7 linked regions of the Homo sapiens genome follow. Changing the gene in region 1 together with any one later gene gives a genetic interaction. Each region holds a gene or a part of one and is shown in the gene's direction. Other genes may lie near its edges.

Region 1 (4,489 bases):
ATTTTGGTGGTTTTTCTAGGCGATGTTTTTTGTTATTATATCTCTGATAAACAGATTTCCCTAAATCTTACAGGTTTAAAGCAGCTTCATCTTCACAATAGTAAGAATTGTTTCTTTAAAAAGTTTCTTCACAAAGGCAATAAAACTTTTAAAATCTGTGAGATTGAATCAGAATTAGCTTTAGAACCTAGAATTTTGTTAGGGCTGAGGGTAGATGAGACGGAGGGAAGATCCCTTTCTCTCATCATTAGCTTATATCGAAATCAATTCTTATTTCTAAAATAAAATACGCAGACCACGCTAGTGCCTTCAAGTCCTGCTGGGAGACTTCAGAGGGGGCACTGCCTCATGCTGCCTGTTTGCTCCTTGTGCCCGGCCTCTATCCCTGCACAGGAAGGACCCGAAGGAGCAGCCTTACCATGCACAGGGGGCTCCCCCTTTGGGGTTCTAGGGCAATTTGTTCTTCGGGCTCCCGGTGAAACATGGCAGGAAAAAAAACGTTTTACTCCTTTTCATTGGATTTTTTATTCATTTATACTTAACAATTATTGGATGAATGTATAAGGGAATTAGTAGCTGACCAGGCTGAACCGGAAACTTCTTCAAAATGTATAACTTGGATTATGTACTTTAAAATAATGTTTTGGGAAGGCTGACTCATTGGGAATACTATGATGGAAGTGTTGACAGTGAGAAAAGGGTAGTCTTATCTAGAGATCAGCTAAGTGTCATTTTTTAAGTAAAAAAGGTACGTGTTGTTTTATTCTGAAAAAAATCCCTTATCTTTTATCATAGTCTCTTAGATTTCCTTAACTTGAATTTGTTCACTATGAGAGTAAAACTACATAAAGTAAAAGTTTTTCAAGAAAAAGAACAAATACTTTTTTACAGTTTGAGCTCTTTGTCTCATTCTTTGGCTGGTCCTGGTTTCCCCACTCACTAGCGGTGTGATTTCGGCTTACATAGCCTCCCAAGGCCTCAGTGTCCTCATCTGCGAAACGAAGACAGTGATAGCAGCTGTCTCGAGGGGTGTTCTGAGAATCACACAGGCATATGTATATATAGCCAGGGGCATAGTATGTGCGGATAAATGTTAGCTAGTTGTGTTGTCAGCTTCAGCCATCAGTGCTTAGTGAGTGTGCTGTTTTCTTACTGTTTAAATTTTTCATGTCATTCGCACTGTATCAGATTTCCAGAGTCAGGCAGATAATATGAGCTGGGGCGTGGGGCGGGGGTAGGGGCGGACGGCATGGGGAAGTCAAGAGACTATTACAAATTGAAGAGTCTTGGGAGGGCTTCATGGAAGAGGAGGGACTTAGCTGACTCTCAGAATGAAGTAGTGTTTATATGGCTGGAACCTCACACCTACTGGAATGGCTACTATGAAATAAAAACAAAATAACAAGTGTTGGCAAGGATGTGAATTCCAAGGCTTGTGCACTGTTGGTGGGAATGACAAACGGTTCAGCCACTATGAAAAACAGTTTTTTGGTGCCTCAAAAAAATTAAAAATAGAATTACCATATAATCCAGCAGTTCCTTCTAGGTATTTACCCAAAATGATTGAAAGCAGGGTCTCAAAGAGCTGTTTGTACAGCCACGTTCATTGCAGCAGCATCCACAATAGCTAAAAGATGGGAGCAACCCACGTGTTCAACAACAGATAGCTGGATAAACAAAATGTAGTGTATGCATACCATGGAATATTTTTCATCCATAAAAAGGAAGGAAACTCTGACCAAGCTGTAGCATAAATAGCCCTTGAGGACTTTATACTGAGTAAAATCAGCCAGTCACAGGAAGACAGTTATCGGGTGATTCCACTTATTTTATAGTAGAATGGTGGATGCTCTAGGCGGGGGAGATGGGTATACGGGGGAATGTTTAATGGGGATGGAATTTTAGTTTTGCAAGATAAAAAGTGTTCTGGAGATTGGTTGCACAGAAATGTAGATGTACTTAACACTACTGAACTTAAGGTGGTCAATTTTATGTGTATTTTACCATAATCAAAAGCACATGGATAAGAAGCTGGAGAAATGGAAGTCTGCGTCATTTGAATCTATAAGCAATACTCATTTTTCGGTTGAGGTGAATGAAGATCACGCTCAGGGGCCTTCTCTCTGTCTTTGCTTTCAGGGTCATGGAGGACGCTGGCGGCGGCGAGGAGACCCCGGCCCCGGAGGCCCCGCACCCCCCTCAGCTCGCGCCTCCGGAGGAGCAGGGGTTGCTCTTCCAGGAGGAAACCATCGATCTTGGCGGAGATGAGTTTGGATCCGAAGAGAACGAGACCGCATCGGAAGGCTCGAGTCCTCTCGCGGACAAGCTGAACGAACACATGATGGAGAGCGTCCTCATCTCTGACTCCCCCAACAGCGAGGGCGACGCGGGCGACCTGGGCCGAGTGCGGGACGAAGCTGAGCCCGGAGGGGAAGGCGACCCAGGCCCGGAGCCCGCGGGCACCCCGAGTCCCAGCGGCGAGGCCGACGGCGACTGTGCCCCCGAGGACGCGGCACCCAGTAGCGGAGGGGCCCCGAGGCAGGACGCGGCCCGCGAGGTCCCAGGCAGCGAAGCCGCGCGCCCGGAGCAGGAGCCTCCCGTTGCGGAGCCGGTCCCGGTGTGCACCATCTTCAGCCAGCGCGCGCCCCCAGCCTCCGGGGACGGCTTCGAGCCGCAGATGGTGAAGTCGCCCAGCTTCGGTGGCGCCAGCGAGGCCTCGGCCAGGACACCGCCCCAGGTCGTGCAGCCCAGCCCCAGCCTCAGCACGTTCTTCGGAGACACGGCCGCCAGCCACTCCTTGGCCTCGGACTTCTTCGACTCCTTTACTACCTCCGCCTTCATTTCCGTCAGCAATCCCGGCGCGGGCTCCCCGGCCCCCGCCAGCCCGCCTCCCCTCGCTGTGCCCGGGACCGAGGGGCGCCCCGAACCCGTGGCCATGCGAGGGCCCCAGGCAGCTGCGCCCCCGGCGTCGCCAGAGCCTTTCGCGCACATCCAGGCAGTGTTTGCAGGGAGTGACGACCCCTTTGCCACCGCCCTGAGCATGAGCGAGATGGACCGGAGGAACGACGCCTGGCTTCCCGGCGAGGCTACGCGTGGAGTCCTGCGGGCCGTGGCCACCCAGCAGCGCGGCGCCGTGTTCGTGGACAAGGAGAACCTCACCATGCCGGGCCTCAGGTTCGACAACATCCAGGTGAGCCCGGGTCTCCCACCTCCGCAGCCCGTGCCTCCTCTCTGCGTCTGTGAGATACGCACAGTGCCCCTTTAGGGATGGAGAAGGAGAAGGCCTTGTTTTCAGTAATTCCTAACATCCCATTGTGAGCGCCTGTGTTCCTCTGTCCCTGGGTAATTAGGGATCTGTTGGTTTCCCCAACAGAACATATTTAATGGACTGCTACTCAGAGAGGTAGAAATAAATACCACCAAGGCAGACAGTTCTACCGTAATTCTCTCAGTCAGTTCTCCATGTCCTGTAATCCATTTGACATTTGAACTCCAGTTAATAATAAATCCATTTCTTTCTTTAAAATATGGAAAAATATATTCCTGTAACATATAATGTGCCCGATGTAGAATTTTTATAGGTTGAATAAGAAAAATACGCGTGACCCAAAAAGTAACAAATCACAGAAATATATAAATGTTAAGCTAAATGGTAACATACAAATGTTCGATCTCACTACTAATGAAAGACAATTGATGCAGGGTTTTTTTCGGTGCCGCTTTGCCAGCTGGAGACCTCCGTGGTCGGCGATGCCCCTGCCCAGGCCTCTCTCGGCCCAGGTTCGCCCACTAGGCCTGCCGGGCCGCACCTGGCTTGCGCTTTGGCATATCCCGTGGCCTCGGTGACTGTGCTCTCAGCCCCCAGCAGGTGGGTTGTGCGAGCAACTGAGTGTAGGGGTCCGGGGGCTGCTCCAACCGCCAGCATAGGAGCAGGCTTCACACGGGGCTTGTAGCTGGACCAGGCGTGTGGCAAGTGACTCCCACAGTGGACTCCTGCGTCCAGGCGAGGGGAACACCGTGGCGCCCGAAGAGCAACAACCGCGACCCCGAAGCCCGAGAGGGGATGTTACAGCGTGCACACAGCTCTTTTCGACCCGCATCTGCTGCCGGACTAACGGGCATCTTAACGGCTCTAAACGGGCGCATTAACAGACCACTGCTTCCCGTTGAGTGGGGCAGCCGAAGGGGGTGGGGGATGGAGGGTTACAGTGTTATTGCTGTCTTGGTACCTGCACTCCGCGGAGTCCTGAGTTCTTGTCCTGCCTCCAAGAAGAACGAGATTATGCCGACAACCAGAGTGTGAGGAGGGCGGACGAGTTTTATTGAGCACAAAACAGCTCTCAGCAGAGAGGGGAGGCGAGGGTGGTCCCCCACCGAAAGTCAGGTGGTGTCTCTCCCAGTGTGGCTGGCTCAGGGGCTTTTTTGGGCTCAGAATGGAGGGGTGCATGCTGATTGTGAGTATGCAAAAAAGAAGGCTAAAACAAAGTCA
Region 2 (4,489 bases), on another chromosome or scaffold:
AGCTAATTTTTGTATTTTTAGTAGAGATGGGGTCTCACCATGTTGGCCAGGCTGGTCTCGAACTCCTGACCTCAGATGATCCACCCACCTCAGCCTCCCAAAGTGCTAGGATTACAGGCATGAGCCACTGCACCCAACCTGAAACGACTTTGAAGGGGAAGCTCTGCCATTTAGAGAGACGAGGCAGGCCCCAGTGCTTTGGGTCGTTATGCAGCCACTTCTGGCACCTAGAAATTATAGAGTCCAAGCAGAGGTCTGACTCTGCCTGGCAGAGAGAGCGATGGCTCCGTGTGCGACAGAACCCCTCCTTTCTGATGCTGTTCCTCCCCTGCCCTCTTGCCTCTCACAATTAGAGGGCTGTTAAACTGTAGAGGGACAGTAACACTAATTTTTAAAAATCATTTTAAGGTTGCAAAATTATTTTCATACATATTCCTCATAGGTGCCTTGGGAAATAGTGGGGCTTGTTTCCCCACTTTGTTTTTAATTTTTATTATTACTTTTTTTTTTTTGAGTAAGATAAGGCAAGTGTCCCTGCTTTAGAAGGGATGCAGAAGGAACTTAAGTAGTTTGCCTAAGATCGATCATACATTTAGAAAGTAGTAGAGCTGGGGCTTGGATTTGGGGTCAGATGTGACCTGATCTAACAGTGGGCCCTTCTTCGGCCTGGTTTGTTCGTTAAATGAATGAACATGCAGACTGAGTGCGCCACGGCACAAGGGCAGACTCTTAACTCTTTAGCCCTCCTCATCACTAGCGCTCCTCTGTTTTTTTGTCTTCCCCAGCGTCTACCCGACCTCCTGTCTTCTCTCTTGACCCCTTTCACCTCTGCCTCTGAGGACCAAAACAGTTAGGAGTCCCAAGTCAGTACTCTTCAGGGCCTGAGAGTTTGCTGACATCTACATGTCATTAATTTTTCTGGGAACCTGAAAGTCCTAATGGCTAGAAAATGAAAGTTAAAGTGAGTAAACTCAGGGGTCCCACTGGGCAGGGTTAAGGGGGAAGCAACAGAGCGGGCCTCTGGTTAGTCCTCTGTTTCTCCTGTGGTGCTGCCTGCTGCTTGCAAGTGGGAAGAATGTGGCTTGCCACCAGGAGCTCCTGTCACTAGAATTTACATGGAAACAGAGCAAGATCATACATTTAAATTCAGCCCCACCAAGCAAGTACTTCTTAGACCTTCTACTTCTTTTTTTTTTTTTGAGTCGGAGTCTCGCTCTGTCGCCTAGGCTGGAGTGCAGTGGTGCGATCTTGGCTCACTGCAAGCTCCGCCTCCCGGGTTCATGCCATTCTCCTACCTCAGCCTCCAGAGTAGTTGGGACTACAGGTGCCCACCACCACGTCCGGCTAATTGTTTTGTATTTTTAGTAGAGATGGGGTTCCGCCGTGTTAGCCAGGATGGTCTCGATCTCCTGACCTCGTGATCCGCCCACCCTGGCCTCCCAAAGTGCTGGGATTACAGGCGTGAGCCACTGCGCCTGGCCAGACCTTCTACTTCTAACCCTTGCCCAGTAAACAGGCAGTGTGGTCGGGTGGAAGGCACTAGAACTTCAGAGGCAGTTGGACCTGAGTTCTCATCCTGATTCCCCCACTTACCAGTTGTGTGACCCTGGGCTTGTTACTTGACCTCACTGAGCCTGTGTTTCTTCTGGTAAAATGGGGATGCTAAATACCTTGCAGAATTAGAAACAAAGAAAGGAGCTAGTCCAGTGCTGGCAGACTGGATGCCCACAAAATAGCAGTTGCCTCTGATGGGTAGGTAGGGGTTTGAAGGTTCTTTTTTTTTTTGAGGCAGTCTCATTCTCATTCTGTTGCCCAGGCTCACTGCAACCTCCGCCTCCTGTGTTCAAGCGATTCTCCTGCCTCAGCCTCCTGAGTAGCTGGGATTACAGGCACCTGCCATCATGCCCGGCTAATTTTTTTTTTTGGTATTTTTGTAGAGATGGGGTTTGACCATGTTGGCCAGGCTGGTCTCAAACTCCTGACCTCAGGTGAGGTGATCTGCCCGCCTCATCGGCCTCCCAGAGTGCTGGGATTACAAGCATGAGCCACCGTGTCTGGCTGATTTTTTTTTTTTTTTTTTTTTTTTTTTTTGAGATGGAGTTTCACTCTTGTCTCCCAGGCTGGAGTGCAATGGCGTGATCTTGGCTCACTGCAACCTCTGTCTCCCGGGCTCAAGCTATTCTCCTGCCTCAGCCTCCTGAGTAGCTGGGATTATAGGCGTGTGCCACCATGCCCAGCTAATTTTTGTACTTTTAGTAGAGACAGGGTTCCTCTATGTTGGCCAGGCTGGTCTCGATCTCCTGACCTCAGGTAATTGTGCCCAGCCTCAACACTGATTCTGATTCAACATGTGTACCAAATGTATGCTGGGGCTGGGCACAGTGGCTCATGCCTATAATCCTAGCACTTTGGGAGGATCGCTTGATCCCAGGAGTTCAAGACCAGCTTGGGGGCCAGGTGTGGTGGATCACGCCTATAATCCTAGCACTTTGGAAGGCTGAGGCTGGGAGATCACCTGAAGTCAGGAGTTCGAGACCAGCCTGGCCAACATGGTGAAACCCCATCTCTACTAAAAATACCAAAATTAGTCAGGCGTGGTGGCACATGCCTGTAATCCCAGCTACTTGGGAGGCTTAGGCAGGAACCTGGGAGGCAGTTCAACCTGGGAGGTGGACGTTGCAGTGAGCCGAGATTGCACCACTGCACTCCAGCCTGGGCAACAGACCAAGAGTCTATCTCAAAAAAAAAAAAAAAAAAAACCAGCCTGGGCAACATAATGAGACCCCATGTCTAAAACAAAAACAAAATGTCTGCTGGGATGCCTTGTACATTGCTTGATGGTTTCACAAATTGTCTCATTTTGTAGACATTGAACAGAATTGATGTGGGTTGTATTCCCATTTTACAGAAGAGAACGCTGTGCCACTTCAGTTTTACTTAGTTGTAAGCGTTTTAATATTAAAACAGTCCTGTAACTATTATAGATTAGAATGCAAAGTTTGCATGAATTGAAGCTAACACAGGAAACTTTAATTAATTAATTAATTTATTTATTTTTGAGACAGGGCCTCTCTCACCCAGGCTGGAGTGCAGTGGGACGATCATGGCTTACTTCCGCCTTGATCTTGTGGACCCAAGTGATCCTCCCACCTCAGCCTCCTGAGTAGCTGGGACTGTAGGCATGTACCACCATGCCCGGCTAGTTTTTGTATTTTTAGTAGAGACAGGGTTTTGCCATGTTGCCCAGGCTGGTCTCAGAACTCCTGGGCTCAAGTGATCCTCCTACTTTGGCCTCCCGAAGTGCTGGGATTACAGGCATGAGCCGCTGCACCTGGCCAAAGACAGTATTTTGCTTGTAGCCAGCTGCTTTGGGTTCAACTCCCAGATTTCTGGGAGTTTCCTCTCCCCTGACTTGAGTGAAGGGTACATATGTTGGGGCTGTTTGAGAAGCACTGCTTTAGGTAGAATTTATAAACTAGGATGTGCCAAAATCCAGGTAATCATGCTTGCAAAAACCTTGGCAGAGGAGAATCGGAATATTTTTGGCATCCTCTGCATTAATAGCTTGGTATTGTAAGAGATTACTTTTCCAATTAAATAGCCCCATCCTCTATGTATAAGAACAGTAATACAAATAAAAGCTAAACTTCTATTTTTGCCATGTGCCAGGCACTCTTGTGAGCCCTATGTGTTGACTCCTTTAATCCTCCGACAACCCCAGGAGGTAGGTTCTGTGTTTAATCCCCATGTTAGAGTGGGGGACTATGTAGTAATGGCAGAGATGGGGTGTGCTCTTATCGCTATTCAATACAGCCTCTCCTTGACCCATCTCTGGGCTAAATGCCTACTGTTCACTTTGCCTAGAAGGCTCTTCTGCACCTCACGTGCCTGGAAACTGTATCTCCCTACTTTTCTCTCAAAGCTCAGTTTGAATGCCACTTCCTCTGTGAAGCCTTCCCTTGCCCCAAATGGGCTGAGGGCTTGTCTCCTACATGGGCTGTCTTCTCAACTGCTATCTCATTGTTCCTTATTTGCCTCATTCTCTGGTGGGTGAGCCCTTTAGGGGCACAGATCGGGTCCTGTTTGATCTTTGTGTGTTTAGGACCTGGCATGGCACTCAGCATAGTAGGCTCCCTACTGAAGTTGTTAAAGGAGAGGGCAGACATTCAAACCTGCCCTTAAAGCAAACACCAAACACCTGCCCACTTCTTTTTTTTTTTTTTTTTTTTTTTGAGATGGAGTCTTGACCTCTCACCCAGGCTGGAGTGCAATGGTACGATCTTGCTCACTGTAACCTCCGCCTCCTGGGTTCAAGTGATTCTCCTGCTTCAGCCTCCCTAGTACCTGGGATTACAGGTGTGTACCACCACGCCCATCTAGTTTTGTATTTTTAGTAGAGACGGATTTCACCATGTTGGCCAGGCTGATCTCAAACTCCTGACCTCATGATCTGCCTGCCTCAGCCTCCCAGTGCTGGGACTACAGGCAT
Region 3 (4,489 bases), on another chromosome or scaffold:
CTCCGCAGGAGTGGGCCTTGGGAGAAGGAGGGTGAGTCCCCGGGTGGAGGGGCCAGCAAAGGCTGTGCAGGCTCTGGCTTGGGGACACTGAGGAGCTCCGTTTTGGATCTGCCCACTGTGAGATGTCTGGGAGGCGCCATGGAGACCTTGGTGGGCAGGTGGTGCCAGGATCAGAGTCTGCCAGGGGAGACAGGTTTTAGGAGTCCCTAGGTATAGGTGGTTTGTGTCCTCTGGAAACGTTGGAAGAAGGGGCCAGGCCTAGTCCTGGGCACCACCAGGCTGAGAAGATTGGGGTCAGGGAGGAGGGCAGGGGGAGTGGAGACTGGGGATGGGTCAGGAGGCAGCTGGAGAACCAGGAAAACGTCCTGTCAGTGAAGGTTTGGTTCAGGAAGAACAGCCAAATCCCCGACACCGTTGAGAACACCAGGGTGGTGCTGACTCTGGTGTGGCTGCTCGGAACCCTTAGAAGGCCCTTAGGGTGTTAGTTACTGTTGTTGGTACATCTGTGATTGTGTCTAGCAGGTGTGGGAGTGCCTTGGGAGCTTCACCTGTGGCCAGAGTCCTCAGCGCCAGGTGGACTTCCCTGCAGGGCTGTGACAGGGACAGACAGCGCTTTCTAACAGTGGCCTTGGGAGTGGTAACCTGCCGAGGAACAGCTCCTGGGCTGGGGAGCTGGAGGCAGGCTGCTGCCCACTGGCTAAGGATCTCAGCAAGAGGGGCATTGGGGCATTGGCCCCCATGAGCTTGGGCCACCCTCAGACTGCCGTGGGGGTGTTTTGATTTTTTTTTTTTTCGAGGCGGAATCTCACTCTGTCGCCCAGGCTGGAGTGCAGTGGTGTGATCTCAGCTCACTGCAACCTCCGCCTCCCGGGTTCAAGTGATTCTCCTGCCTCAGCTTCCCGAGTAGCTGGGATTACAGGCGCCCGACACCACGCACAGCTAACGTTTGTATTTTTAATAGAGACGTGTTTCACTATGTTGGTCAGGCTGGTCTCGAACTCCTGACCTCTTGATCTGCCCACCTCAGCCCCCCAAAGTGCTGGGATTACAGACATGAGCCACCATGCCCGGCCCTTTGATTTCTTTAACAAGAAAATGTGTCCTTTTAAAATTTCTATAAGCTCAATAGAGAGGGGATGGACAGTACCAAAAAGCAGAAGGAAGCAAACCCACATTCTCCTTTCAAAGGCAGCATTCCTGTCGCTGAGCAGCTTCTCCAAGGGTGGTCTAGCCGGGCAGAGGGTGTAGGGTGGGAATTGGCCCCTAGAAGGTGCCGTGCCTGATGGGAGAGTCCTGCTCTTGATTGGCCATGGGGCCACTGCTCCACACTCTTCGGTGTGAGGATTTCTGCCTTTGACCAAGGTCTTTGTCTACAAATTGAATTTTCCTGACTGGAAAGCCGACAGGTGCTTCCTTTCCTTCTTTGGTCCTTCGTCTCCTTTGCATATGGAGTATCGTAACTGCCTGAGAGCAGACTGTGGTATTTTTTCCATTGAAAGATGTGTTTCCACCACTCACAAGTGACCCATAAGCCAGCACCTAGTGTCCAGGAGCAGCTGGGGTGGTGGATGGTGAATATTTCTGTCTTTCTCAAGCATTGACTTGGAGACATCCTGCCCTCCAGGGATCACTTGCACTGCCTCTCCTGTTCAGACCCTGGCACTTGTCTAGACCTGGTTAGGGATGAGGCTGTGTTTAGGCCAGATCCCTTTCTGTTAACGTTTTACTTTGGTTGAGTTCAAATTTTTTTGTTTTATATTTTTTTTTTTTTTTTTTTTTTTGAGACAGAGTCTTCCTCTGTTTCCCAGGCTGCAGTGCAGTAGCGCAATCTCAGGTCACTGCAAGCTCCACCTCCCGGGTTCATGCCATTCTCCTGCCTTGGCCTCCTGAGTAGCTAGGACTACAGGTGCCCGCCACCACGCCCGGCTAATTTTTTGTATTTTTAGTAGAGACGGGGTTTCACCGTGTTAGCCAGGATGGTCTTGATCACCTGACCTCGTGATCTGCCCGCCTCAGCCTCCCAAAGTGCTGGGATTACAGGCGTGAGCCACCACGCCCGGCCTTAAAATTATTTAATAGAGATGAGGTCTCACTATGTTGCCCAGACTGGTCTCCAACTCCTGAGCTGAAGTGATCCTCCTGCCTCAGTCTCCTGAAATGCTGGGATCACAGGCATAAGACACCACACCTGTCTGATTTCAAATGTTATAGGGGCTTAGGAGAGAAAATGGGAACATTGAGAAGGTATAAAGGGGAATACACAGCCACACATTACCCCTGTTCCCAGTCCAACTCTTGAAACACTTGGTATATGTCTTTCAATTTATGTGGCTGGGTATGGTGGCTCACACCTGTAATCCCAGCACTTTCAGAGGCCAAGGCAGGCAGATTGCTTACGCCCAGTCTGGGTAACACGGTGAGACCACCATCTCTACCAAAAAAAAAAAAAATTAGCCAGGCACGACATGCCTATAGTCCCAGCTACCTGGGAGGCTGAGGTGGGAGGATCGCTTAAGCCAGGGAGGTTGAGGCTACAGTGAGCTATGATCCAGCCTGGATGACAGGGAGACCCTGTCTCAAAAAATAATAATAATAATTTTATTTGGATAAACACATGTATACATCATTGAGGGTTAGGGGCTGGATTGGTATTTGGATACACACGTGTGTACGTAATTGAGGGTTAGGGGCTGGATTGGTCCCTGTTTCTTTTTTTATGCACATGAGAATATTCCCTTTCATACAGATTTTTATAGCTCTTCTCCATTGCTTGGATAAACCATCATTTTCTAAATCATTTATCTGTTGATTCTTTCTTCATTTGTAAATGTCCCCATTACATCCGTTGTACGTAAACTATTAAGAGTTAAAGGTTGTGAAGATTTTGATGTCCTATGACGTGTATCATGACAAACTATTCCCGAATTTGCTTCCCCTGCTACGGTGCTGAGAGTAGCAGTCAGTGGTGCCATGGCAGCACTGGGCATTCTCGTGTCGGCAATGTTTCCAATGCAACAGTCAGAAACTGGCGCCTGCTTTTCGTGGATGCTTGTGTGTCTTGCCTAGAAGCAGGGACACTTACAGGAGGGGAGAGGTGATGAACGGCCCTATGTGCTCCCATCCCGGAAGCTGTCCGTGTCCTTTGATGAGTCTTAGGACTTTTATATTTTCCTTTATTATTGGTATTCCCTTTATTATTAGTATGACTGTTGTGAGTTAGAATATTTCATCCTTTACCAAGTATGCTTCTTATGACTTCATCCGGCTTAGAAATTAGTTTTAGAGAACTTTGCTATATAGTAGCAGTAATCAATTAGAAAATGTTATTGAAAAGAGATCTCAGGAGGTTGCAGTGGCTCACACCTGTAGTCCCAGCACTTTGGGAGGCCGAGGCAGGCGGATCACTTGAGGTTTGAGGTCAGGAGTTTGAGACCAGCCTGGCCAACATGGTGAAACCCCATCTCTACTAAAAATACACAAATTAGCCAGGCGTGGTGGTGCGCACCTGTAATCCCAGCTACTCAGCAGGCTGAGGCCTGAACTGGGAGGTGGAGGCTGCAGCAAGCGGAGTTCGCACCACTGCATTCCAGCCTGGGTGATAGTGAGACTCAGTCTCGAAAAAGAAAAGAAAAGTGATCTCCATCACAATCACAAGAAAAGAATGCCACCAAGTCCGTAGGAGTAATCCTGATACTAAAATATATAAAGTCAGTATAAATAAAAGTACAACACTCAAGGTATTTGAAAAGACCTAAATAAGTAGACATTTTATTCTTCTGCTGTGAAGATTTAAGCAGTGGCTCACGCCTGTAATCCCAACACTTTGGGAGGCTGAAGCGGGTGGATCACAAGGTCAGGAGATTGAGACCATCCTGGCTAACACAGTGAAACCCCGTCTCTACTAAAAATACAAAAACAAAATTAGCCGGGCGTGGTGGCAGGCACCTATAGTCCCAGCTACTCGGGAGGCTGAGGCAGGAGAATGGCGTGAACCTGGGAGGCGGAGGTTGCAGTGAGCCGAGATCGCGCCACTGCACTCCAGCCTGGGCGACAGAGCAAGACTCTGTCTCAAAAAAAAGAGAAAAGATTTAAGTTCTCCCTAAATTCATCTGTAAATCCATTGACTCCCTATCAAAATTCCAACCTCTGTTTTTAAAGATGATTTTAAAATTCATATGGAAAGAAAATTTGGGAGTAAAACTCAGATGAACTTCCCTACAAGATCATAAAACTGTGATCATTGAACCCATGGTGATTTTTTTTTTTTTTGAGACAGAGTCTCACTCTGTTGCCCAGGCTGGAGTGCAGTGGCACAATCTCCACTCACTGCAACCTCCACGTCTCGGGTTCAAGTGATTCTCCTGCCTCAGCCTCCCAAGTAGCTGGGATTACAGGGATGTGCCACCACGCCCGGCTAACTTTTTGATTTTTTGTAGAGGTGGGGTCTCACTTTGTTACCCAGGCTGGTCTGGAACTCCTGGGCTCAGGT
Region 4 (4,489 bases), on another chromosome or scaffold:
GTAGTTCCTGCCACTTGACAGGCTGAGATGGGAAGATCATTTGAGGCCAGGAGTTCGAGGCTGCAATGCGTTATAATAGTGTCTGTGAATAACCACTGCACTGCAGCCTGGGCAACATAGCAAGACCCATCTTTAAAAAAATCTGTCTCATCTATCATCTCTCTATCTGTCATCTATCTAATCTATGTCTTCAGGCCAGATCTAGCCTGTAAACTGGTAATTGAGGCCCTCTCCTCTAGCAGCAGTAGTAACAATTAGAAGTGATTGGAATAGGGAGCAGTGTATTTGGGTTTAGGAGCAGGGAGCAAGACGGTTTAATGACAGAGAAGGAAGCTAAAGATATTAGAGTTTATAAATCAGTTTGTTTATAAATAGGCACGCACATACAGGAATAAATGAGAGAAAGTGTTGCTTTGAAAAAGTTGATGCTATAAGTATGAATCTAACCAAACTAATGACAATAAAAACAGTATTTGTAAGACATTGATGCTTTATTTATTTATTTATTTATTTATTTATTTATTTTTTGAGACGGAGTTTTGCACTTGTCACCCAGGCTGGAGTGCAGTGGCGTGATCTCGGCTCACTGCAACTTCTGCCTCCCAGGTTCAAGCGATTCTCCTGCCTCAGCCTCCCAAGTAGCTGGGATTACAGGCACACGCCACAATGCCCACCTAATTTTTTTTGTATTTTTAGTAGAGATGGGGTTTCACCATGTTGGTCAGGCTGGTCTCGAACTCCTGACCTCAGGTGATCCGCCCACCTCAGCTTCCCAAAGTGCTGGGATTACAAGCATGAGCCACCGTGCCCAGCGACATTGATGCTTTAAATTAGAAAGCAGGACTATTAATTCCTACCTGATGACAAATTTCTTTGTCCTGCTTTCAGAACACATAATTTATATGACTCAAAATGCCTGTTAGAATTTGGAAAAGACTAATTGACCCATTTCTAGATAGACCAGGTATTCTTACATAGGCTATAATACATTCTTTAGCATTCATGTCTAGGCTTAAAATGTTACCCTACATTCTCAGAAAAACAAACTGTATTCCTTTTTTATTTTTTTGAGACAGCGTCTTGCCATGTCATCCAGGCTGGAGTGTAGTGGCACAATCTCGGCTCGCTGCAACCTCTGCCTCCTGGATTCAAGCGATTCTCATGCCTCAGATTCCCAAGTAGCTGGGATTACAGGCATGTGCCACCATGCCTGGTTACTTTTTGTATTTTTAGTAGAGACAGGGTTTCACCATGTTGGCAAGGCTGGTCTTGAACTCCTGACCTCAAGTGATCCACCTGCCTCTGACTTCCAAAGTGCTGGGATTACAGGCATGAGCCACCACGCCCAGCCTATTTATTCTCATTAAAGTAATCTCCCTATAATTTATTGAATAAAATGAATTCTTTAGGAAGACACACCAAGTTTGTTTATCCTGTGCATTTGAATTTCCTTTGGCATATCACCATATGGGGAGACAGAGGTGAGAAGGGGGAATACAAGTAGTCAGTTTAAAGAAGTGAGGGAGCCAGGCACGGTGGCTCATGCCTGTAATCCCAGCACTTTGGGAGGCCGAGGTGGGTGGATCACCTGAGGTCAGGAGTTCAAGACCAGCCTGACCAACATGGAGAAACCCCGTCTCTACTAAAAATACAAAAATTAGCTGGGGTAGTGGTGCATGCCTATAATCCCAGCTACTTGGGAGGCTGAGGCAGGAGAATCACTTGAACCTGGGAGGTGGAGGTTGCGGTGAGCTGAGATTGTGCCATTGCACTCCAGCCTGGGCAAAAAGAGCGAAACTCAGTCTCAAAAAAAAAAAAAAAAGGAAGTGTGGGAAAATATCTATGTTCCAGACCTCATGGTTGGAGCTAAAATATGAACCTTTTTTCTCAGTGGTGTCCAGTTGATAGAAAAGAGAGCTTACTTGCTGTGGGTGTATCTGAGTATCTGGATGACATAATGGAAAACATTTCTTGCTTTAGAACTAGACCGCAGTTTGAATGCCATTTCTGGCACTTTCTGGCTTGTGATTCTGTTTCCTTGTATATAAAGTAGGAGTAATAATGCCTATCTTGGAAAGTGATTTTGGGATTTAAATGAGATGTCCTCTGTTTTTTCCCAGATCTTATAATAGACACTCAGGTGCGAGCTATTGTACCTTTATTGGTTACTAATGAATTGTTACATGCTCTTAATTTCTGCATTCGTGAAAGCACTGGACAAGATCTTGCAGCCACTTCAGAATATTTAGTCTGTTTTTTAGGTCTTTACTCGGAAATCATGTTTATGAAACTTGAACATCAGCTTTGATATCTTGATCATACATTTATATACCATGTATGCTTAAGTTTATAAAATACACAAATCAAAATTAACCAAAATATTAATAATGAAATATTTCCATATTTTTGGTAATAATGATAAAATACATAAATCAAAATTAACCAAAATGTTAATAATGAAATATTTCCATGTTTTTGGTAGTAATGTTTCTTTATGGTTGTTGGCATAACAGGCTATGGATGTCTCTAGCATCAAAGCAATGTTAATAAGTCTAATAAGACTACTGGCTATCATCTATCAACATTGGTCTGATTTGTGATAATTGTGTTCATAAAACTTCTTAATATATTTCCTGGCCTCTCTGAACTATTGGCTTTTTCATTCTTCTGCATGTGCGAGAGATGGAAACCCTTTGAATTAGGGCTTTGTGACTGACCCATTGTCACTACTTCCTTCTTTTTATGTATTTTCTCCTCAAAGCACAAAGAAATTAGAAATATCCTTGTCTGGGTACCGTGGCTCACACCTGTAATCTCAACATTTTGGGAGGCTGAGGCAAAAGGATCACTTGAGCCTAGGAGGTCAAGGCTGCAGTGAGCCAAGTTTGCACCACTGCACTGCAGCTTGGGTGACAGAGTGAGACCCTGTCTCAAAAAAAGAAAAAAAGAAATAATCTTATCTGCAAACATTGCTGAAACCTGTGTAGTTTCTTCTTCTTTTTTCTCTTGGTATTGGTATCAAGGAATTTAAATTTTAGATGGACTGTGTTTATTAAAATTGGTAGACTATGCTAAACAAATTTACAATTCTTTTGCCTAGAAAAATGGAACTACTTAAGTCTTATATAACTGGAAAACTTTTACTTTTCGCTTAACATTAATTGGAATTTTGGTGACAGTGAAAATTATTTTTTTTTCAGGGCTTGTTAAACAACTGTTTTAAAACAGATGATGACCAAAACCCTGCTCAATGAGAATAGTATTGTACGTGAAACTCTAAAGAAGTCATTATTCATCTCATTTTGCAGATGGAATTAAGAATGCAAAAATAGTGGACATGCCAAGTGAATGCTGTTAATAATATGTAAAATTATTTGATTAAACATTTATTACTTAAAAAAAAGTGGACATTAGCCTCACTTATAAGGATAATGTTATTAATACATTATTGTTCATTCCTTTCGAACCAGATTCCAAAATGCTAGAAATTATGTTAAGATGTTATTTTATACTGGGCGTGGTGGCTCACACCCGTGATCCTGGCTCTTTGGGAGGCCAAGGCAGACAGATCATTTGAGGTCAGGAGTTCGAGACCAGCCTGGCTAACATGGTGAAACCCCGTCTCTACTGAAAATACAAAAATTAGCTGGGTAAAGTGGCACACATGCCTGTAATCTCAGCTACTACAGAGGCCGAGGCAGGAGAATCACTTGAACCCGAGAGGTGGAGGTTGCAGTAAGCTGAGATTGCACCACTGCACACCAGCCTGACAAGAGTGAGACTCCGTCTCAAAAAAAAAAAAAAAAAAAAAAAAAAAAATATATATATATATATATATATATATATATATACCTTTATGTAGGCAGTGTAAAATTATGAAAAGAATGTAAGACTCAACTTCAGGAGGTTGAGATTCAAGTTCTGCCTCTGCCTCTGCCTCTTAGTGATTTTTACCTTTGGTAAATATTTAAGTATTCTGAGTTTCTTTTCCTCGTCTGTATTTAATAATAACACATGCTTAGCCTATCCTGTTTGCTATGAGAATCAAATGAGATAACATATAAGAAAGGAATATTTAAATACCAAGGCGAAATTGATCTAAACAAATAATGCTGTCTTTCTGCCTCGTAAGTGAGGTTCAAACTGTAGTGATCACCTTCAGTGAGCACAGCAGCAAGAGCAAGATTCAATCTAAGGAAAAACCCTGACTGAAGAATATTCTAATTGTTTTTGAGAAGAGGTGACTTAGGGTCCTTGATCAGTTGTGCCACATACACCATAAAATAAAAAGTAAAAGCATCTAAAATGGAGCACAAGTCTAGAATGTTTGAGCTATAATGCAAGGATTTTCTAGCCAAATCTTCTTTTACAGATGAAGAAACTGAGACAGGGTTATCTAATAAGTTTTCTAGTGGCAAACTGAAATGCAATTCTCAGGGTGGTTAATGAGATACAAGTTTTGAAATTAGTTGTACTTATAAGGTGTGAA
Region 5 (4,489 bases), on another chromosome or scaffold:
TCAGGGCCGGGCGCAGTGGCTCATGCCTGTAATCCCAGCACTTTGGGAGGCTGAGGCTGGCGGATCACGAGGTCAGGAGTTTGAGACCAGCCTGACCAACATGGTGAAACCCCGGCTCTACTAAAAATATAAAAATTAGCCAGATGTGGTGGTGCGTGCCTGTAATCCAAGCTACTTGGGAGGCTGAGGCAGGAGAATCACTTGAACCTGGGAGGCGGAGGTGTGGTGAGCCAAGATTGTGCCACTGCACCAGCCTGGGTGACAGAGTGAAACTCCATCTCAAAAGAAAAAACAAATTAGCTGGGAGTGGTAGCATGCACCTGTAGTCCCAGCTACTCAGGAGGCTGAGATGGAAGGATCACTTGAGCCCAGGAGGTCAAGGCTGCAGTGAGCCAAGATCTTGCCACTGAACTCCCGCTGGGGTGACAGAGCGAGACCGCCATCTCAAAACCAAAAAAACAAAACAAATGGAATCAGCACAATAGCTGTAGAAAGATGCTATTAGAAAGGATGGGGGGAAATGGAAAATAAGTGGCAGATAAAGTACCCATACTAAAAAGATGTCTTTAGCTTGGTTGAAAAATAATTGTCAGTCCTACCACTGTGAGTTCAAAGAACTTAAGAAAATACAGAACTTCAAGCAGAGATATAGAGGATTGGGTAAAATAAGGCATGGCAAAGAGAAAATATAACATCAGCTGGCAGAGCACACAGGAAAGTAGTGGAAGAGAAAACTAAAATTATCACAGGATTAAAAGCCACATTGGAAACAGAATAAAGGCTGGGCACAGTGGTTCACTCCTGTAATCCCAGCTACTTGGGACACTGAGGCAGGAGACTTACTTGAACCTGGGAAGAGGAGGTTGCAGTGAGCCGAGATCATGTCACTGTACTCCAGCCTGGGTGATGAAGTGAGACTGTCAAAAAAAAAAAGAAAGAAAGAAACAGAATAAAGATGAACACACAGTGCTGAAAACAGTAAAGGTTAGGGAGGACAGATTGAAAAATGAAACTGAAGAAAACAATGAGAACATAATAGATGCAGAAAGTAAAAGAGATCTGACGTAAGTATAATTGGTGTCCCTCAAGAAGAGGACCAAAGAAATGAAACAAACTCAAATATATGGTTAAAGAAGAACTTAGAAGTAAAGATTTGAAGTGATAAGTTCAAATTGGCATGATTTGAACTTGCCAAAGATTTGAAGTGATAAGTTCAAATTGGCATGAAGTGATAAGAAAAATTGGCACTGAACAGTTGGCACTGAAACATTTCCTAGGAAAATTTCTTTTTTAAAAAATTTATCTTATTTTTCGTGTGTTTTGTTTTGTTTTGAGACAGTGTCTCACTCTGTTGCCCAGGCTGGGTGCAGAGGCATGATCCCAGCTCACTGCACTCTTGACCTCCTAGGCTTAATCGATTGTCCCACCTCTGCCTCCCGAGTAGCTGAGACTACAGGTGCACACCACCACGCCCGCTAATTTTTGTATTTCTTGTAGAGGCAGGGTTTTGCCATGTTGCCCAGGCTGGTCTCAAACTGTGGGCTCAAGTGATCCACTAACCTCAGTCTCCCAAAGTGCTGGGACTACAGGCCTGGCACAGAGCCTGGCATCCCTAGGAACATTTCTATGTTTTAAGGATGAAGAAAGAATTATTTGGACACCCAGACAAAATGATCAAGTCCTCTTTAAGAGGGGAAAAGAAATTAGGCTAGCTACATTTGATGACAGAAGGCCATGGAGCAATGTCTAGGAATGTACAAATACTGTAGATTGTGCTGCTATAAATACTTGGGGATATACTTAGGCATATGTAAGGTTTATGTGGAAATAATAATGCTGGGGAACACAAAACAATACTCGAAAAATGGGAAGGTATTCTCTTTTCTTGTATAGTAAAGCTTGGTATCCTAAAGATGTCAGTGTCCCTAAACTTAATGTAATCCCTGTTTAAAATACCACAGTTGTTTTTTCTGGAGACAGGGTCTCGCTCTGTCGCCCAGGCTAGAGTGCAGTAGTGTGAGTATAACTCACTGTAACCTCAAACTCCTGGGCTTAATCAGTAGGTGTCTCACTATGTTGCTCAGACTGGTCTTGAGCTCCTGACCTCAAACAGTCCTCCTGCCTGCCCAACCCAAAGTGCTGGGGTTACAGGCATAGGCCACCATACCTGGCCAAAAATACTCCAGATTTTTAATAATGGTTTTTTAGAACCAGGCAAACTGATTGTTTCTACAGATAAATTTTACAAACATGCACACATTGTCAAAAAACTTCTGAAAAGGTGGACTAATGATGGATATTAAAACATAATGCAAAGATATAATAAATAAGATCGTTTGATACTCTAAGAACTGATGTATAAACAGAGTCTAGAAATGAACTCAGAATACAAAAAGAAATGTAGTCTGTGCTAAAGGTGATAGGAAATGAAGAAAAAATATTTTTAAGGCCAGGCACAGTGGCTCACGCCTGTAATTCCAGCACTTTGGGAGGCGGGGGCAGGCAGATCACGAGGTCAGGAGTTCGAGACCAGCCTGGCCAACATAGTGAAAGCCCGTCTCTACTAAAAATACGAAAAATTAGCCAGGCATGGTGGTGGGCACCTGTAATCCTCGCTACTTGGGAGGCTGAGGCAGGAGAATCACTTGAACCCAGGAGGTGGAGGTTGCAGTGAGCCAAGATTGCATCATTGCACTCCAGCCCGGGTGACAGTGTGAGACCCATATATATATATATATGTATATATATATACATACATATATATACGTATATATATGTATGTATATATATATGTGTATATATATGTATATATATATGTATATATATGTATATATATACGTATATATATATGTGTGTGTATATATATATATATATATTTTTAATAATTGGTATTGAAACCAGAAAAAAAAATTGGATCTCTACCTTAAGCTTTGTACCAGCCGGGTGCAGTGGCTCACACCTGTAATCCCAGCACTTTGGGAGGCTGAGGCGGGTGGATCGCCTAAGGTCAGGAGTTTGAGACCAGTCTGGTCAGCATGGTGAAACCCTGTCTCTACTAAAAATGCAAAAAGTAGCCGGGCATGGTGGCAGGTGCCTGTAATCCCAGCTACTCGGGAAGCTGAGGCAGGAGAATCGCTTGAACCCAGGAGGCAGAGATTGCAGTGAGCCGAGATGGCACCATTGCACTCCAGCCTGGGCAACAGAGTGGGACTCCGTCTCAAAGAAAAAAAAACCTTGTACCAGAATTCCAGATAAATGGAAGAATGTAAACATATAACTGTAAAACACGGGAGAATCTTGGTGTGAGAAAGCCATGAAAGTAGAAGTAAACTATATAAAAATAAAATCTCTGTAACAAAACCAAAGTCAAAAGATAAGTGACAAACTGAAAAAATACATGTAATGTCCTAGACAAAGAACAAATCCCTTAATAACTGCATATAAAGATCTGCAAATCACCAGGAGACCAGTCACCCAGTAGAAAAAGAGAAATAGATAGGAAGAGTTTCCAGAAAGGATATGTAAATGATTCTTGAACGTATGAAGAACTGAACCTCATAAGAAAAAAAAAAAATGGAGTTTCAGCTAGATTAGGAAAAATAAAAAACCGTGGTAATCTACTGTGTGTGTGTGTATACACGTATGTGTAGCTTTCCCATGCAGTTGCTATCAAAATTTAAATTGGCATTATTTTCCACCTGGTAGTTCCGCTAGTGGTAATTCATCCTACAGCTATACTCATGTGGTTGAAATGACTAAAGTGCAAGGATATTCATTTTAGCATTATTTGTAAAAGAAAAATATGAAAATATTATTATTAGGGAAATTGTTGAATAAATTATGCTACCTCCATGCAGCTGTTAAAAGAATGAGCTAGCTTTTCATATACTGATATGGAATATTTTAAAATAAATATTCGGTGGAAAAATATGTAGAAGAGTAAACACCTGTGTTTTTTAAAAGCATATGCATATACATATGTACACCCATATGTGGTTGTGTGTAGAAGGGATACACAAGAAATTGATAACATTGATTTTTCCAGGGAAAGGGACTGGGATGTAGGGGCTCTAATTTGTACTGTAATTGCTTTGCTTTTATGCCTTTCAAAATTTGGGCCTTGTGTATGTATTACCTAGTAAGAAAGTTAGTAATAAAAAAGCTAACATTAATAAAAATTAAATCTTAGTAGAACTTCAGAAAGAGGAATAAACAGAAAGGAATGAATGAAGAAGCACTAGGCATATAGTAGCAAGAAGCAGTTCTTTTTATAGAGAAGAAGTCAGGCATGATAATATTAACATCAGATAAAATTCAAGGCAAAAATGTTGAAACAAAAGGAAATATTTTACATGTTAAACATACAGGCTGGGCGTGATGGCTCACACCTGTAATCCCCACTACAGGCTGGGTGCAGTGGCTCATGCCTGTAATCCCAGCACTTTGGGAGGCTGAGGCAGTCAGATCACTTGAGGTCAGGAGTTCAAGA
Region 6 (4,489 bases), on another chromosome or scaffold:
TGTCATAAATCTTTAGCCACATATCCAGATTTGCCTTAGGATAAATTCCTAGAAGTGAAATTATTGGGTTAAAGGGCATAATCTTTAAGTTATTAAATAAAGAATGTTTTGTTTATTTGGGTTTTTTAATCAACTTCTCTTCTTAAGGACTCTCATCCTGTAACCACCATTAAGTAGCATTGCTTTTTTTATTCTTCACCAATATGCTAGAGAAAAAAAGGCACCATATTTCACCCTTTATAGAAATTGTATTTTAAAATTGCATTTGAGAAGGAAGCTAATTTTAAAATAAGTATGTATTTTAAACTCATCAACAAGTGTAGCTGGCATTTAGTTCGTTGACCCATTACAATCCATTATAAATTACTGTGGTGTTTTGAACACAGGAAGCTGATATATATTTACTGAATCCTTTGATAGAGCTTTGTTTTGATTTGTTTTGTTTTCTCATTTAACTTTCAAAAATATTCTCTATCTGTCTGCCTAGGACTCTAAAGTTTCAGTATCTGTTCTGGTTTACATATTCCTTCATATCCTTAATTCCTTATATTAGAGTAAGCTCTAATATAATCATCATACAGTGTAATTAAGAGGATTGAAACTTTTTTTTAGGAAATGTTGTATGATGATTAAGAACTTGGAGACTCTCTCCAGTGTCACCTTCTCAGCTCAAGTCTTCTCATACCAAAAGAAACACCTTCCTTAATCTTTTACTCTCTTAAGTTATTTAACAATATTTAATAATGGTTAACAGCACTCATTCTGCAGCCAGATTTCTTGGGTTGATATTCCAATATCCACTTCTCAATATCTATGTAATCTTGGTCAAGTTACTTAATCAGTTATTGCCTCAGTTTCTTCGTCTGAAAATGTAGATGATAAAAACCATATGAGATGTGTTATGAAAATTAATTTGTGTGAAACAGTGCTGGCACATAAGTGTTTTTTATAAAGATTATCTATCATTATTATTATCATAGGGAATCTGCACCAAATGCCTAGACATTTAGAAAACTCTTAGTTTGGTAGGGAGGCAGAGGATATCCTTTTTGTTATAAAAATGACATGAAAATATGAGCATAAAGATTGCTAGCTCTTACTATATGATCTGTTGACTTAGGTGGTACAACATCTTGGCCCTGCAACTGATTTTTATAAGAAACTTGCATTAGATTGCTCGGGACAGCAAACTGCAGTGGATTTGTTCCTTTTAAGTTCACAGTATTCTGATCTTGCTTCTCTAGGTAAGGAAAGTCATCATGGGTACATTTGTTTAAATGAACATTTTTAATGCATAATTAAATCTAAACTCTTCAGTAAGCATTCTCTATATTTTAGGGAGAAAAGCATGTGCATTAGATAGACAATATCTATGAAAACTACCAGTAAAGTTTAAAGCACTATACAAATATAAAATGTCACTTGTATTTTGTTTAGATAGCATGATTCCCTTACCATTCTGCTCAACAGTAAACTTTATCATATATTTTATAGATATTACTGTTTTCTCAGATTTGTATGTTCTTATTTTGATGGCTTAGGTTTTCTCATGACTTAGATTTCTTCATAATGTAGAATCTGTACTACTGTTGGACAAGTAAAATATTATTATTTCTATAGCTAATACTTTTTGTATTTCTCTCTAAAGCTTGCATGTCCAAGTATTCTGCAGGGTGCATCTATTATTATCCATCATTCCACTATACTCACAATCCTTCACAAGCAGAAAAGTTACAAAAAGACCTAAAACGGTATCTCACAAGAAAAATTGGGTTTGAAGCTGTTATGAGAATAAGGTGTACTAAAGGTATGAAGTTGTAAAAGTTATATTTTATATTAAATACTTGTATCAAAGTCAGTGAGCATTCCATGTATTGACTACCTCTGACTGTTCATGATGGAAGACTGTTTGATCTCATTAGCTATACCATGTTTTAAATAGATAATAGTTATTGAATAATCCTTGCCCAATTTTTAAAAATAACTTGAATAAGTAGACAAAAGTAATGTTTGATTTACTCAGAAGAACCTAAGAGAAAGCCTATATTAGAAATGATTTTAGAAGGAGAATTAGAGGAATAGGGAAGATCTTAAATAAGAATTGTCAAAGTAAGGGTCTTTGCCTTCATAATCATTTAATGTACACTTCCTTGGTTTTATGTGAATATTTGTTTTAATCCTTTATTTTACCTTTATTTTAAATCTAGGATGAGTTATATAATAACCCTCATTTGCTTAATTTTGTAAATTAAATGTTTAGTCAGATTATGTCTGACTTCAAGTCACATGTGAGAAAATGTAAATAAGGTTAGGTGTCAATACAAGTGAAATGTATAGTCTCCCTTTTATATAACGTCCACTAGTTTTTTTGAATTAATATTTTAGAAACTCTGCCTATGCTTGAACCTTGACTCCCCAGTTATCCTTTTGATTCAAAATCATAAACATCTTTGACTTAAAAAAGTAACTTTAGCTTGAGGTGAAGATACTATTGTTAACTTGATTTTTTATGATTTTCTCCTTTTTAGGTCTTTCAATGCACACTTTTCACGGTAACTTCTTTGTCCGTTCTACTGATTTGTTATCCCTTGCCAACATCAATCCTGATGCTGGATTTGCGGTGCAGTTGTCAATTGAAGAAAGTTTAACAGATACTTCCTTAGTATGTTTTCAAACAGCCCTATTATATACATCAAGCAAAGGTAATGTTAACAGAAATGAAATATAGTCTGCAGCAGTAATTCCTCCCTCCTTTCACATGGCCTTTAGTGGAGTGGGGAAAAAGAATGAATACACAGTGGGAAGTAATGGAATTTGTATTAGTTAATCAAACATATGTTGTTATTTTCTTTCTTTTTTTAACTCTCACTTTTGCATCTTTAAATAGCACACTTTTTTAATTTATGGAAGACTTGTATTCTTAGAATCTTGTTTCAAAACAGTTCATGCTAAATCCAGCTATGCCATTCTTTGTATTATTTCTTGCCCCAAAAAGTAAAAAACTGCTTAGCAATTAAGGCCTTCATTTGTTACTTGACAGTTAAGTTTTCTGGTATTTTACTCTATAGGATATAATTTAGAATGAGTGATATAGCGTATGTTCATACTCTGCAGATTTGGAGAGTGTTTAATTTTCTTTTAAAAATGTTCATTGTAAAACTTGGTTTTTACATCTCAAAATCCTGTTGGTGATGTAATCTAGCCAAAACAATAACTTGAATAAAAATTCGACTTGTGGCTGGATGTGGCGGTGGCTCACGCCTGTAATCCCAGCACTTTGGGAGGCCGAGGTGGGTGGATCACCTGAGGTCAGGAGTTCCAGACCAGCCTGGCCAACCTGGTGAAACCCCATCTCTACTAAAAATACAAAAATTAGCTGGGTATGGTGGCAGGCACCTGTAATCCCAGCTACTTGGGAGGCTGAGGCAGGAGAATCACTTGAACCTAGGAGACAGAAGTTGCAGTGAGCTGTGATCACACCATTGCACTCCAGCCTAAGAGACAGAGCAAGACTCCGTCTCAAAAAAAAAAAAAAGAAAGAAAGAAAGAAAAAAAGTATTTGACATGTTTGCTTTGCTTTATTTCCTTTTTGATCTAATGTATTTTCAATGACTTTTTTTTTAGGTGAGCGGAGAATTAGAGTACATACACTTTGTTTGCCAGTGGTAAGTTCACTAGCAGATGTATATGCGGGAGTGGATGTACAAGCTGCCATCTGCCTTCTGGCAAACATGGGTGAGTAAAAATTGAAGGAACATGTGAAATGTATTTTTCTATCTTAAAAACTGAAGCTTGGCTGGTGGCAGTGCGTCCGCCTGTAATCCCAGCATTTTGGGAGGCTGAGGCGGACGGACCACGAGGTCAGGAGTTTGAGACCAGGCTGGCCAACATGGTGAAACCCCATCTCTACTAAAAATACGAAAAAATAGCCGAGCGTGGTGGCAGGCGCCTGTAATCGCAGCTTCTCAGGAGACTGAGACAGGAGAATTGCTTGAACCTGAGAGGCGGACGTTGCAGTGAGCCGAGACCGCATCACTCCAATCACTCCACTCCAGCTTGGGCAACAGAGTGAGACTCTGTCTCAAAAAAAAAAAGAAAGAAAGAAACTGAAGCTAGGATTTTCTCTTATTTAAAAAGCATATGTTTTACATTTTTATTTACTGCATTGTGAATCAGACTGTCCTCACATTTCTTCCTTAATCTTACTTTCAAAATCTTTGAGGGAATTCATAATCTCTAAAAATGTGGTAAAAACTGAAATGTCCTTCAAATAATATATGCACAATCCATGGTACACTCATACAATAGAATATAATGCAGCAATAAAAAGGAATGAACTGTCAATACTTAAACAAACATGGATGCCTCTCAAAGACATTGTGCTGAATAAAAGAAGCTAGACTCAAAAAGCTGCATAGGCCAGGTGTGGTGGCTCATGCCTGTAATGAGCTCATTCCAGGTGGGCTCATTCCCAACACTTTGGGAAGCT
Region 7 (4,489 bases), on another chromosome or scaffold:
GCCAACGTGGTGAAACGCCATCTCTATTAAAAATGCAAAAATTAGCCGGGCATGATGATGGGCGCCTGTAATCCCAGCTGCTTGGGAGGCTGAGGCAGAATAGTTGCTTGAGCCCAGGAGGTGGAGGTTGCAGTGAGCTGAGGCTGCTGCCATTGCACTCCAGCCTGGGCGACAGAGCGAGACCCTGTCTCAAAAAAGAAAAAAAAAAGTTGACTCTAATAGAGTGTGCTGGTCTTTCAAATGCATCCATTATTTTGAACACAGAAAAGCCTCAGTTTTTAAAATGCGTTTATTCAAATCTGATTGAAATTTTAAGCTGCATTCCTGTTAATCAGAATAGGTCATCGTAATGGATCATTCTTGCACTTTAAAAAATCTTAGTATTCTTTTTCCTGGCTAAAGATACTTTCTACAAAAAAATATTCAATTTAACTATACTTGTTGACCACATTAATTCAGGTGTTTTGGTTACAAAGTGGCCATACCATTTTCTGAGTTTTGTTGTTTGTTTTTTGTTGGCCTAGGTGTTATATGAACTTCCCACCAACACACAGTGGTGCTTCGATATTCAGTGGTGTCCCCGAAATCCTGCTGTCTTATCAGCTGCTTCGTTTGATGGGCGTATCAGTGTTTATTCTATCATGGGAGGTAGCACAGATGGTTTAAGACAGAAACAAGTTGACAAGGTAATAGGAAGTGTTAAAGTTTTCTATTATAATGCCTGAAAAAAGTATGTGTTGTGTAATATTTTGAAATGACTTCACTGATTAACAATGCTGGTTAATTGGACAATTGTGATCAAAAATTTTTTTGGATATGACTGGAAAAAAATGAAACTTTGTGTATGGTCGGATGCTTATGTTATTATTATCTTTTTTAGCTTTCATCATCTTTTGGGAATCTTGATCCCTTTGGCACAGGACAGCCCCTTCCTCCGTTACAAATTCCACAGCAGACTGCTCAGCATAGTATAGTGCTGCCTCTGAAGAAGCCGCCCAAGTGGATTCGAAGGCCTGTTGGTGCTTCTTTTTCAGTAGGTGGATTTTGTTTTTATGGTCCATAGGCACAAAGGACTTTTTATACCAAAGTGTTATTATAGAGTCACTCTGATGGAAGCAATCAGGGTTTAAGTTGGGATTTGAGATGTACTTGTGGGTATTTCATCATTCAAAATGGTTTCTCTGAAAAATTGGAACCTACTCTTTTTTTTCCCTTTTTTAAAAATCATGGTAAAATATACATAAAATTGATCATTTTGTTCATTTTTAAATATACAGTTCAATGGCATTAAGTACATTTACATTGTTGTTGTGTAGCCAACACTTTATATTCCTCCCCTCCTCCATTTTTTTGTTTGTTTGTTTGTTTTTTTGAGACAGTCTCACTCTGTTGTACAGGCTGGAGTGCAGTGGCACAACCTTGGCTCACTGCAACCTCCGCCTCCTTGGTTCAAGCGATTCTCCTGCCTCAGCCTCCTGGGTAGCTGGGATTACAAGCACGTGCCACCACACCTGGCTGGTTTTTGTATTTTTAGTAGAGATGGGGTTTTACCATGTTGACTGGCCTGGTCTTGAACTCCTGACCTCAGGTGATCCACCCGCTTCGGCCTCCCAAAGTGCTGGGATTACAGGCATGAGTCACTGCACCCGGCCCTCCTCCCTTTTAAATTTGTCTTCCTTCTCTCTCTCTCTGTCTCTCTTTCCCTCCCTCTGTCTCTCTTTCCCTCCCTCCCTCCCTTCTTTTTCTTTTCTTTTCTTCTTTTTTTCTTTTCTTTTTGCAGGGAGTGTCCTCCCTCTTCTTCATCCTTTTAGCTTTCTTTTTTAATTGCCAGCTTTTTTTAATGGTAAAAAATGCATAATATAAAATTTTAATTGTAAAAAATGCATAATATAAAATTTACTATCTTAACCATTTTAAAATATACACTACAACCATTTTTAAATATATACTACAGTAGTGTTAACTATATACACGTTGTTGTGCAACAGATCTCTAGAACTTTCTCATCTTGCAAAACTGAAACTCTGTGCCCTTGAACAACAGCTCCCCATTTCCTGTTTCCCTTGAATCCCTGGTAACCACATTCTACTTTGTTGCTAGGAGTTTTCTACTTTAAATTACTCATATAAATGGAATCATGCAGTACTTGTCTTTTTGTGGCTGGCTTATTTTACTTAGCTTAATGTCCTCAAGGTTTATCTGTGTTGTAGTGTGACAGAATTTACTTCTTTTTAGAGGCCAAATAATATTGCATTGTATATATATATATATATATATATATATATATATATATATATATATATACCACATTTTTTTTTATCCATTCATTTGATGGTCATTTTGGTTGCTTCCACCTTTTGGCTATTGTGAATAAATGCTGTGGTGAACATGGGTTTGTAATTATCATTTTGGGATCCTGCTTTCAGTTTTTTGGGACATATACCCAGAAGTGGGATTGCTGGATCATAGGATGGTTCTATTTTTAAGTTTTTGAAGAACCTCCATACCATTTTATAGCCGTTTTACCATTTTACATTCTCACTAGTGGTGCACAAGGGTTCTAGTTTCTCCACATCCTCTCTAGCACTTTTTGTTTGTTTCTTCCTTTTACATTGCTGATACCTTGCCTAATTCTTTCATGCCAAACTTCTAATAGCTTGATTTCATATTTGTTGCTTGTCTTTTCCCCCTCTAATCTCTACTACATATTCCAAGATTAATCTTCCTAAAATGGACCTTTGAATATGTTTTATGTCACTCGTAAGTCTGTTCTTTGGATCTGCTTAATCTTCTCATCGTCCTATCTGGTCTTCTCTATCTGGGTGGATCACTTGAGGTTAGGAGTTCAAGACCAGCCTGGCCAACATGGTGAAACCCTGTCTACTAAACATACAAAAGTTAGCCAGGCATGGTGGCCGGCACCTGTAATCCCAGCTACTCAGGAGGCTGAGGCAGGAGAATCACGTGAACCCAGGAGGCAGAGGTTGTAGTGAGCCAAGATCCCACCTTTGCACTCCAGCCTGGGTGACTAAGAGCGAAACTCTGTCTCAAAAAAAAAAAAACCAAAAAACCAAAAAAGTACATTTCATCTAGAACAGAAATTGAAGTGGTGTCAGACTGTGGCGCATGAGAGGTTGTATCAACTAATTTCATCCAGATTATCTGTTTAGGCCACTTTATAAGCACTTTTTTTGGCCATATCCTTGGGTTAACACTGAGTTTGTTCATTCTCTCTTTTATAGTTTGGAGGCAAACTGGTTACGTTTGAGAATGTCAGAATGCCTTCTCATCAGGGAGCTGAGCAGCAGCAGCAGCAGCACCATGTGTTCATTAGTCAGGTTGTAACAGAAAAGGAGTTCCTCAGCCGATCAGACCAACTTCAGCAGGCTGTGCAGTCACAAGGATTTATCAATTATTGCCAAAAAAAAATTGATGCTTCTCAGACTGAATTTGAGAAAAATGTGTGGTCCTTTTTGAAGGTAAAGTTGCTGTTTAAAGCTATATTATTTCATTATCTGCAAATTTAACTGTTCCTTTATATTCTAAATCTGTCCTCCTATTAAAGAAACAATTGAAAAAGTGTGATTTCAGCAATTCATCATGAAATTAAGAAGCCTTATAAAGAGCATACAACCTAACTTATGTCCAGAGTTTTTCCTTCTCTGCTTTGAAAAGTGTAATATGAAATACATTTTTAATAAGTAAAAAAAAATAATAATAGGTCTGTTTAGAGGAGAGCGACATAGTCAGCACACCTATTTTGAAGATGAGTACATAGAGTTTACTATAATGAAAACAGAATATTTAACATCTATAGTAGATCTAGTTAAGGAAAATGAAAAAAGAGGAAGAGGAATAGAGGAGAGAGGTTGGAGGCATTTTTCCTTTTACTTTAAGAGGAGTTAGATTAGAATAACAAATAGAATTTCCTGGTTGGTCATTTTGCCTCCACTGGAATGTCTGTTTCTTTATACGGTACTGGTTTTTCAAAGGTAAAGCAGTCTTGAATACAGTTAGGTTAAAGTATAAAATTAAAGAATTTATATTTTGTAATAATTTTGGGAAAGAATTTTAGGACATAGAATATTCCACATAGTTTGAGTTTTGTATCAGTTTAACCTTTGGACATAAGTTTGTATTTACAGAAATTACTGTTCAAAAGTAAGCTTTATTCAACCAGGATAATTAATTACTAGTATATTTACTATTAATAAATAACTTATTTAAAAAAATAATTCTGGGCACATGTTCTCAGGACCTCCTGAGGCTGGGTCTCCAAATAAAAAACAAAAAAACCCACTATTCTTTGGATTCCTTCAAACAGTGAATCTTTAGAATGTAGACTTCAGATATTTTTAATAATTCTCTTTGGAATTTGATTCATTCTTATAAAAATTCGGCCTTTAAATGTAGGTCTTTGTTTTAAGAATATGTCTTTTTTTTTAAAGGTAAACTTTGAGGATGATTCTCGTGGAAAATACCTTGAACT

The links.
Region 2: changes in TRAPPC12 (region 1) and RAB5C together harm fitness more than expected from each alone (negative genetic interaction), as found in Homo sapiens cells (one large-scale study listed by BioGRID).
Region 3: changes in TRAPPC12 (region 1) and MAN1B1 together harm fitness less than expected from each alone (positive genetic interaction), as found in Homo sapiens cells (one large-scale study listed by BioGRID).
Region 4: changes in TRAPPC12 (region 1) and SLC33A1 together harm fitness less than expected from each alone (positive genetic interaction), as found in Homo sapiens cells (one large-scale study listed by BioGRID).
Region 5: changes in TRAPPC12 (region 1) and DCAF7 together harm fitness more than expected from each alone (negative genetic interaction), as found in Homo sapiens cells (one large-scale study listed by BioGRID).
Region 6: changes in TRAPPC12 (region 1) and SEC24B together harm fitness more than expected from each alone (negative genetic interaction), as found in Homo sapiens cells (one large-scale study listed by BioGRID).
Region 7: changes in TRAPPC12 (region 1) and SEC31A together harm fitness less than expected from each alone (positive genetic interaction), as found in Homo sapiens cells (one large-scale study listed by BioGRID).

What each region holds. Positions count from the first base shown.
Region 1 is NC_000002.12:3,385,481-3,389,969, forward strand, and holds part of TRAPPC12 (trafficking protein particle complex subunit 12), read left to right. Parts: intron 1-2,139; 5' UTR 2,140-2,143; coding exon 2,144-3,190; intron 3,191-4,205; exon of another isoform or gene 4,206-4,433; coding exon of another isoform or gene 4,434-4,489. UniProt on the Homo sapiens protein: Component of the TRAPP complex, which is involved in endoplasmic reticulum to Golgi apparatus trafficking at a very early stage.
Region 2 is NC_000017.11:42,148,147-42,152,635, reverse strand, and holds part of RAB5C (ras-related protein Rab-5C), read left to right. Parts: intron 1-4,489. UniProt on the Homo sapiens protein: The small GTPases Rab are key regulators of intracellular membrane trafficking, from the formation of transport vesicles to their fusion with membranes.
Region 3 is NC_000009.12:137,089,764-137,094,252, forward strand, and holds part of MAN1B1 (endoplasmic reticulum mannosyl-oligosaccharide 1,2-alpha-mannosidase), read left to right. Parts: intron 1-4,489. UniProt on the Homo sapiens protein: Involved in glycoprotein quality control targeting of misfolded glycoproteins for degradation.
Region 4 is NC_000003.12:155,843,788-155,848,276, reverse strand, and holds part of SLC33A1 (acetyl-coenzyme A transporter 1), read left to right. Parts: intron 1-4,489. UniProt on the Homo sapiens protein: Acetyl-CoA transporter that mediates active acetyl-CoA import through the endoplasmic reticulum (ER) membrane into the ER lumen where specific ER-based acetyl-CoA:lysine acetyltransferases are responsible for the acetylation of ER-based protein substrates, such as BACE1.
Region 5 is NC_000017.11:63,556,583-63,561,071, forward strand, and holds part of DCAF7 (DDB1- and CUL4-associated factor 7), read left to right. Parts: intron 1-4,489. UniProt on the Homo sapiens protein: Involved in craniofacial development. Acts upstream of the EDN1 pathway and is required for formation of the upper jaw equivalent, the palatoquadrate. The activity required for EDN1 pathway function differs between the first and second arches.
Region 6 is NC_000004.12:109,523,698-109,528,186, forward strand, and holds part of SEC24B (protein transport protein Sec24B), read left to right. Parts: intron 1-1,120; coding exon 1,121-1,244; intron 1,245-1,648; coding exon 1,649-1,807; intron 1,808-2,528; coding exon 2,529-2,702; intron 2,703-3,624; coding exon 3,625-3,735; intron 3,736-4,489. UniProt on the Homo sapiens protein: Component of the coat protein complex II (COPII) which promotes the formation of transport vesicles from the endoplasmic reticulum (ER).
Region 7 is NC_000004.12:82,863,352-82,867,840, reverse strand, and holds part of SEC31A (protein transport protein Sec31A), read left to right. Parts: intron 1-524; coding exon 525-686; intron 687-880; coding exon 881-1,033; intron 1,034-3,242; coding exon 3,243-3,479; intron 3,480-4,448; coding exon 4,449-4,489. UniProt on the Homo sapiens protein: Component of the coat protein complex II (COPII) which promotes the formation of transport vesicles from the endoplasmic reticulum (ER).